Regions from separate parts of the Homo sapiens genome. Here all the other regions are linked to region 3. The links come from fine-mapping of genetic effects on gene expression. A gene starts in region 3. Each other region holds a variant in brackets. All regions are shown on one strand. Distances are from middle to middle. Region 1 has its middle 18 kb from the start of SCARB2. Region 2 overlaps CDKL2 (cyclin dependent kinase like 2). Region 3 holds the start of G3BP2 (G3BP stress granule assembly factor 2).

The links.
Region 1: its variant is fine-mapped to the expression of G3BP2 in cerebellum (GTEx, PIP above 0.99).
Region 2: its variant is fine-mapped to the expression of G3BP2 in whole blood (INTERVAL, PIP above 0.99).

The regions. Positions count from the first base shown.
Region 1 is chr4:76,229,978-76,232,742 of GRCh38, reverse strand. It overlaps a transcript of SCARB2 not described here and a transcript of FAM47E not described here. Among named protein-coding and RNA genes, the nearest start is that of SCARB2, 18 kb to the right of the region's middle. The variant T/C (reference allele first, on the strand shown) is at 1,264.
Region 2 is chr4:75,608,721-75,611,485 of GRCh38, reverse strand. All of the region lies in intron 3 of CDKL2 (cyclin dependent kinase like 2), which reads left to right. Among named protein-coding and RNA genes, the nearest start is that of CDKL2, 20 kb to the left of the region's middle. The variant T/C (reference allele first, on the strand shown) is at 1,584.
Region 3 is chr4:75,672,287-75,675,051 of GRCh38, reverse strand. It overlaps G3BP2 (G3BP stress granule assembly factor 2), which reads left to right and starts at 1,641. Exons shown (of 12, transcript NM_203505.3): 1 at 1,641-1,844. RefSeq lists enhancers at 1-805, 1,542-1,831, 2,112-2,351, 1,784-2,761.

The sequences.
Region 1 (2,765 bases), 560 kb before region 3:
CCAGAGGGCCCCTGAAACATCCAGAAAAGAGAGGCAAACGAGATGATTTGACATGTCTAGGTAAATGAAATTGTCATAATGATGTTCAATCTTGTTTAGGTTATATTTTTGTGAGTAATATTAATACATGTTCCAAAACTGTATGGGACTTTCTAAAATTCTAATGTCTAAGTTATGCTACCAATCATAATTAAGGTTGTTATGTTAACTTATTGTAAACCACAGAGAAAACCAAACTCCTTTGTCAATTGTGTTTCCAAGTGTAACTACCCTGGACATTTTTGCTATTCAGAGACAATTGTTGTCTTGTTTTAATCCTTTTCAAGAGATGATTTAGAATAAGCCGTAGAACTGTAACAGGTGCTCTCAAATACAGGCTTCTGATAACTTTGGAGATTGTGACATTGGAATAAAGGAAAATGTACAGGACTCATGAAGAGCTGAAATGTTCACGAATATCAACCAAAGCAAGAATTAACTAAATGGACTGAACTCAGAAAACTAAAGCAATCTTTTTGACTTTTGCTTGGAATATTGCTCATCCTTGTTTTGTTTCTCAGAGTCAAGGAAACTTATTTTGAACTATTTATGGCCTTTAATAATTAAGCAAGGTATACTTCTGTAACCAAAATTTGAAGCATGTTTGTTTCTCTCTGCCTGGTTCCTCTAAAATTTGAAAACTATCTGTGAGTATTCATAACTTATGGCAATATAGTTGTTTACATCAGTGCAATAGGAATCCACTTCTCTCTTGCAACGGGACACAATTGGAAAAACTGGTTACTTTACCAAGTCTTTGACTGGAAGGGTATGCTTTCCTTTAAGGAGTCAATCTTGACTTGCAGCGCCAATAAAATCCCAGTGGGGAAACTGGCCTCATACCCTTGTTTACACAGTCCCTGCACAGGGTTCCTATGGTCAGTAAAGAATGCCACTTTTAACAGGTCCAGGAACTCCAAGTTTATCTTGGAACCTTAAGAGGAGAGGATCACCAAACTCACAGGTATTTGAGGATAAACCCATGCCTGGGCTCAGCTTTAAAAGGTCTTATCTGATTCCTTGTGGAACAAACTTCCATCGAAGCCAATCCGAAAGGCCTTTGCGGAAATAATAATTCTTGCTGTACTTTATGCAAATAATCAGGCCAAGTATAAAAATGTAAAGTCTATTTTGCAAACAACTCAGTCCTGTCATGATTTGTTTGTTTGTTTGTTTTTAACAAAAATGAGGACTGGCGAGTGAGAAATCGTGTTTCAAAACCTA[T/C]CATATATTTGTCATTAAATTCTAAACTCACTAGTTGTTTTTAAGTTTTTACCTACATTTTAAGACTAATCCTACTTGTTCCTGTGAACCAACCGGCAGTCTCCAGCTGCAGCTCAGAAAGAACAAGAGGGATGGGTAATGTGAAAATCTGGATCAACATTCTAATTCTGAGGAATTATCCTGAAAACCCTGCCAGGTGATGGGAATGAATAGGATGCCCATCACTTGGACATTTCCTTTGGGAAAATAAGACCAAGGGAGCTAACAAAAGCCAAGCATCATGCACCCAAATCTTAGCAAGCATAACTATAGCTATCAGTCATCTGGGTGTGTCACAAGACATCCTTTCCTCTCCCTTATTGGAGGAGGACTCAGTTCTACGGTTTCACCTTAGCATGCAGCTTATGATAGGGAGTCCATGCAACTCCCCTGAGACACATTTTTGTTCCAAACTCAATTCCAAGCTTTGGGTCAAAGCCCTAGGAAAGAAAACTGGATCTAAGGGATCCAGAGGTAGACAACAACAGAGGTTAAAAGGCACAGCACAGGTGATCGTGGCTGATTCCTGCCAATTAAGCCATGCCCAAGCTTCCTGTTTGATGGATAAAGGCCACGTTAGTGTCCATGGCATAAATGAGGTCTAGGGAATTCAAGGCTACTGACAATAAGGGAGATAGGGCATATGTGGGTAAGAATGGCAGATTTTCACCCCCTAAACCCCCTGCTTCATGAGTGTAAGTCATTTTAACACCTATGGTGGTGACTGCCAAGGTCGCCTGGACTCGGGGATGGAAGGACAGAAGAGGGAAAGAGGACGCTCTTTCCTCTCTCTCTCACATACCCCAGATATCTGCTAGGAAGAGAAGGGAAGCTTCAAACTGAACTTTATAATAATTTTATTGGGCATAAACTCTCTTGAGCAGAATCCAGGTGTTGAACAGGAACTGCTGCAGAAAGAAGCACAGGAGCCATGGCCCATCGTGTGGGCAGACAGGGAGGGGCAGGTGAGGCCTGAAAGTGATGCTTGCTTTCTCAGCAGGGAAGCTTATAGCCTGGGGCAAGGTCTGAGTTCTCCCTGGGCTTCCTGGAGATTAATTTGCCACTGTTAGGAGGGCACAGAGCGAGCAAGACCAGCCTCACCAGCTGTGTGGGAGTTGAGTTAGGCCTATTGTTACTGGCTTTCCCCCACTTTCTTAGTGAGAGAGGTGGCCATAATCCCCTCTGGAACATAACCCCATTAGCCCAAGAACCACCCAGCATCCCCTACAGTGGCCATAGCAAGCCCTGCCCAAGGAGAGTCTGAGCTCAGACTTGTCTAACCCTGCACCCACCTCATGGTTTTTCTCTACCCATCCCAATAGCCAATCACAAAAGACATAAACTTTTGGGAGCTTCATGGCCCTGACCATTACCTGAGAAACCCAAATACATATCCTGGCCAACTTAGGGCAAGCTTATATCCCCATTCTACTATCGTAGCTGGTGCTCTCTTGAAAGCACCA
Region 2 (2,765 bases), 64 kb after region 3:
TACTCTTTTTTTTTTTTTTTTTTTTTTGAGACAGAATCTCACTCTGTCACCCATGCTAGAGTGCAGTGGCACGATCTTGGCTCACTGCAACCTCTGCCTCCTGGGTTCAAGCGGTTCTCCTGCCTCAGCCTCTCAAGTAGCTGGGATTACCGGTGTGCACCACCATGCCTGGCTAATTTTTGTATTTTTAGTAGAGATGGGGTTTCGCCATGTTGGCCAGGCTGGTCTTGAACTTTTGGCCTCAAGTGATCGGCCCACCTCGGCCTCCCAAAGTGCTGGGATTACAGGCGTGTGCCACTGTGCCCAGCCTCCATTTACTCTTAAACTCTTCTAGATTGTGATTTCTTACCCTCTTTCTTCTCAAACCCTAGTACCTTTTCTCCAATCCTTACTCCCAGCCCCTAGTTAAATGGAGATAATAATAGCACCTATCCTTAGGGTTATTATGAGAATAAAATAAGTTAAAACATGAAAAACATTTAGAATAGTGCCTGACACATAAGTATTCAAGTGTCAGCTATTATTACCATTATTATTAAAGGTATATTTTAAGGTTTTGTTTTCTGGGCAGTTAACATTTCTCTTTTTAATGTAGACAGATAATAACGGTAGTGGCTGGAATAAAACACACAGATATATACATACATACATACATATATATAAACACATATATGTACACATAAGGATGAGATGCTTGACTTTAAGAAAATGAGAACATTTATTCTCAAATATATTATTCATTTTTAAATGTATCTATATATGTGAGCACTTGAATTTTTTAAAATATAAATATGATTTTAATCCTTTATGAGCCAGACTGAATAACATATTTAAAAACAAATTTAAGATTGCTGCCCATTGAAGTTTGACCCAAATAGTACAGAACATTATGAGGTTTGTAGAACCCTAAACGACTTTTTTTACTGAAATTACTAGGTATCATAATTTATTTAGGTTATATCTAGTATTAAAGACCCATGTCAGAGCCTACCCTTTTCATAGTACTTTCTCTGGCCACCCCAGTCTGCAATGATGGATTTTAGGAAAAATTCAACTCATATCATCTTGGTTATACTTAGAATCTATTGTGTTACTTAAGTTATAAGGTATTAGAGTTGGGAAGAAACATGGTGATCATGCACTTTAGCCCTCTCATTTGTGGGCCGAGAGGATAGACTTAGAAAGATTGAGTTGTCTATGGCTGTACTGAAAACCAGGGACTAGACCCAGGTCTCCCGACTCCCAGTTTAGCTCTTTCTTTTTTTCTTTTTCTTTTTTTTTTTGAGATGGAGGCTCGCTCTGTCGCCCAGGATGGAGTGCAGTGGCTCGATTTCGGCTCACTGCAAGCTCCGCCTCCCAGGTTCACGCCATTCTCCCTGCCTCAGCCTCCCGAGTAGCTGGGACTACAGGCGCCTGCCACCACGCCTGGCTAATTTTTTGTATTTTTGGTAGAGACGGGGTTTCACTATATTAGCCAGGATGTCTCGATCTCCTGACCTCGTGATCCACCCGCCTCGGTCTCCCAAAGTGCTGGGATTACAGGTGTGAGCCACCGCACCCGGCCCCAGTTTAGCTCTTTCTAC[T/C]ACAGCACAGGTGGTCTGAGACTGGACCTGTGTCCTCATCACTGATATCTAGGGTAATAAAGTTGGTAGCCTATACAACGTGCTCAGCAATGGCAGATTGCCGTTTAGGATGCTGGTCTTCCGAAAGAGTTAAAACAAATCTATCTTTTTTAGTTTTCAAAATACAATTTGCTTATATTAGAGAATTAGGCCTAATAATGTCTTTTGCCTAGCTGTAGATTTTTAAATATATATATATTATATATATAATATATCATATATGATATATATCTATATAATATTTTTTATATATATATTTTTTGAGATGGAGTCTCTGTCGCCCAGGCTGGAGTGCAATGGCGCAATCTCGGCTCACTGCAACCTTCCCCCTCCTAGGTTCAAGAGATTCTCCTGCCTGAGCCTCCCAAGTAGCTGGGATTACAGGTGCCTGCCATAGTGCCTGGCTAATTTTTGTATTTTGACTAGGGACGGGGTTTCACCATGTTGGCCAGGCTGGTCTCAAACTCCTGACCTCATGATCCACCCACCTCAACCTCCCAAAGTGCTGGGATTACAGGCGTGAGCCACCGCACCTGGCCAGATTTTTAAATATTATCTGAATATCAGCATCCTGTTTTATTCTTACAAAGTCTCTCCTTTAGAAATTTTAATCACTAATGTTTTTGTTTACTCTTTACATTTCTAATTGCCTGATGAATGTCTATACTTGGGTGCTCAGCATTCCACCCAAAAGTCCAATGATTAAAACTAAACTAATTATTCCATTAAAACTAACTTTCTCTAGGCTTTTCTAATTTTGAAAATGAAACCACCATTCTTTTAAATTCTCAGGTTCAAACAAAATATCTACAAAATATCTACGACTCTTCTAAATTCTATTTCTTTCTTTTCTTTTTTTTTTTTTTTCTTGAGATGGAGTCTCGCTCTGTTGCCCAGGCTGGAATACAGTGGTGCGATCTTGGCTCACTGCAACCTCCACCTCCTGGGTACAAGCAATTCTCCTGCCTCAACCACTCAAGTAGCTGGGATTACAAGCGCGTGCCAGCACGCCCAGCTACTTTTTTGTATTTTAGTAAAGACAAGGTTTCACCAAGTTGGCCAGGCTGGTCTTGAACTCCTGACCTCAAGTGATCTGCCTGCCTCGGCCTCCCAAAGTGCTGGGATTACAGGCTTGAGCCACTG
Region 3 (2,765 bases):
ATAAAATGGGCATAAAAATAGCAACTACTGGCCGGGTGCGGTGGCTCACGCCTGTAATCCCAACACTTTAGGAGGCCAAGGCGGGCGGATCACGAGGTCAGGTGTGTTCGAGACCAGCCTGGCCAACATAGTGAAACCTCGTCTCTACTAAAAATATAAAAATTAGTTGGGTGTGGTGGCATGCGCCTGTAGTCCCAGCTACTAGGGAGCCTGAGGCAGGAGAACCGCTTGAACCCGGGAGGCGGAGGTTGCAGTGAGCCAAGACCGTGCCATTGCACTCCAGCCTGGGCGACACAGAGAGACTCCATCTTAAAAAAAAAAAAAAAAAAAAAATATATATATATATATATATATATGTACATACATATAGCAACTAGCTCATAGGGTTACTGTGAGGCTCAGAAGGCTGTATAATTACAAGAATGCCTGGTATATAAGCCCAGTATATTAAAGGACAGCCGGCATGTAATGTATTTTGATGCTTTAAGGAAAAACATCAGGTTGATTTCATTAAAGTGATGGTCTGCCCAAATATTTTGCATATAACAGTATCTTTAAGCAGTCTAAAGGTAAAGATATTGTAGACTTTGGAGGCCCTAATGTTGGCATTGCCTCTGCCAATATTTAAGGTATTTGACGTATTGTCTTAACATGCCAAATACCTTAAAATTGCCCTTACAGGATTGCGAAGAAAACTGATGAGATGTACATGCTTGCGTCCACCATGTTTAGTTCGTAAGCATTCATTAATGTATTTTTTCCTTTCCGTTTCTTTGAACACTTCCTCAGTCCTTCATTCCAAAATTCCTGTGCTATCTCGGTATTCTCTGAAAACACTGCCAGACCTAAGATGCAAAGTGGCTTCCTTGACTACAAGATTTGGCTTGGCTTTGTCCATGAAACAAGGTCACCAGTGTCTCACCCTGGGGGCAAGTCTGGGCTTAGAGCTAGAACAGGACTGTAATCCTTGTATTTCAGGCCTTCTTTTAGCTTTAGTATGTAAAATGCTTTAGTATCTACTGATATTTAGCCATGCCTAAATTCGTAACAAGGACACAAAGAAATAGTCTTTTCCCCCTCTGTAAAGCCCACGTCATGTTCTTCCTTTACTGCAGGGCCTCTTAATGGGGCTTAAAACCTAGGATGGGTTAAGTAAACAATGTAGGTGAGTTTAGTGTGCAAACAGCTGAAATCACCGGCTGCATTTTAAGCTCGTCTACAGCAGCAACCTGCAGACACCTATTCAGAGAGATTACTAAATTCCCTCCTTCCCATTAATAAAAAGGACCAGAATATCAGTCTACAAAAGACACTGCGTTGCTGCGAACCAGCTCTCGCTTGCGCGATCAGGAAGAAGGGCGGCAAGGCTGGAGCCTCGGGACCGGAGAAAGGCAGCCTGCTTGTGACGTCAAATCAGCGGACTCTTATCTTGGCTTTAGGCCGGTTCCGGTTCCCCGGCTTTCCGGGCGCGAGCGTGTGCGAGCGCGGCAGCGTACTGCGCGTGCTCCGCAGAGGGACACGGGAAGGTTGGGTCCGGCTCTGGAGGAGATGCGTGATTGGCTGACGCTGTGCTCGGGGGTTCCCTGGCCCTTTCGGCAGGGGTAAAACAATAAGAGGGGGCGGTGGCAAAGGGGGCGGGACGTCCGTGGTCCTTGTCGCACGTCGCAGCGCCTGGCGCCCGGGAAGAGGTGGTTGTGAGGCAGACGAACTCGCGGCTCTCCGGCTTCCGAGGCTTCCGAGTTGTCGGAGGAAGGGGGCGGCGAGCAATAAGAACCCGCCGCACCCGGTCCTCAGCGACTCTTCTGACCTCCGCGCGACGTACCCGCCGCCGCCGTTGGCTGGAGGTGTGTACGGGCGCCGGGAGGGGAGGTCGGTGTGGTGGTCGGAAAGGGACATTCCATTCGCGCTCCGCGGCGCGAGGCAATCGTCCGGTGTGTGAGCCCGGGAGCCGGAGGTGTAGCGGCAGAGACATTGTTCTTGCCGGCTCCCTACGGTGCCGTGTGTGCGTGAGAGAAGACCAGTCTTTCCTCTAGGTGAGGGGTGGGAGGCCGCCTGGGAAGGGAGGTGACCCGCGAGCGTCTTGCGGGCAGAGGGCTCCGAGTGCACAGGTGGGGTTGAGGTTTATTGGGGATGAGGTGGCGAAGTGGGGGGGGAGGCACGCAGCAGCTCCCGAAGGCGCGCTGATGGAAGCTTAATACAGGAAGTGTGGGAGCAGGCTTTCTGGAGGGGATGTTTTAGGGTGGGTAGCCCACCGTTCCTGTTTCCGAATCGTTTTCGGCTCTTGTACCTTGTTCCTTCGGAGCGGAGAGGCCGTCGCCACCCCGCCCGTGGGGGGAGGGGAAAAGAGGTTGTGTCGACGGAGGCAGAAGCGACGCAGATGCGAAAGTGGCGGCCTCCGGGCACCATTTCTGTGCACGGAAACAGAATCCGGGTTTGAAGGCAGCCGCCGCTTCGCTTACCCAGTACCTAGTGTTCCGTCGTGTTTGACCAACCCCCCTCTCCCTGCCACCGCGGGTTTAATCCGAACGTGTTCGGATACTGGAACTGTAACGTGCGCCTTCTTCGTCCCCCTCTTATGCAGACGATCCCTTATTGACTCGGGAATGGCTTTTGGGGGATGGGTTCCCGCTTTTGTTGGGATGGGGGGACAGAAAGGAACAGAAGCTTCCCTAGATTGTGTTGATTTTGTTAGTGGAATCTGATAGAATTTTTCCTGCGTCTCTAAAAGCAGATTTCTTAAGATGGCCCTTTGCCGCTTTGGGGCG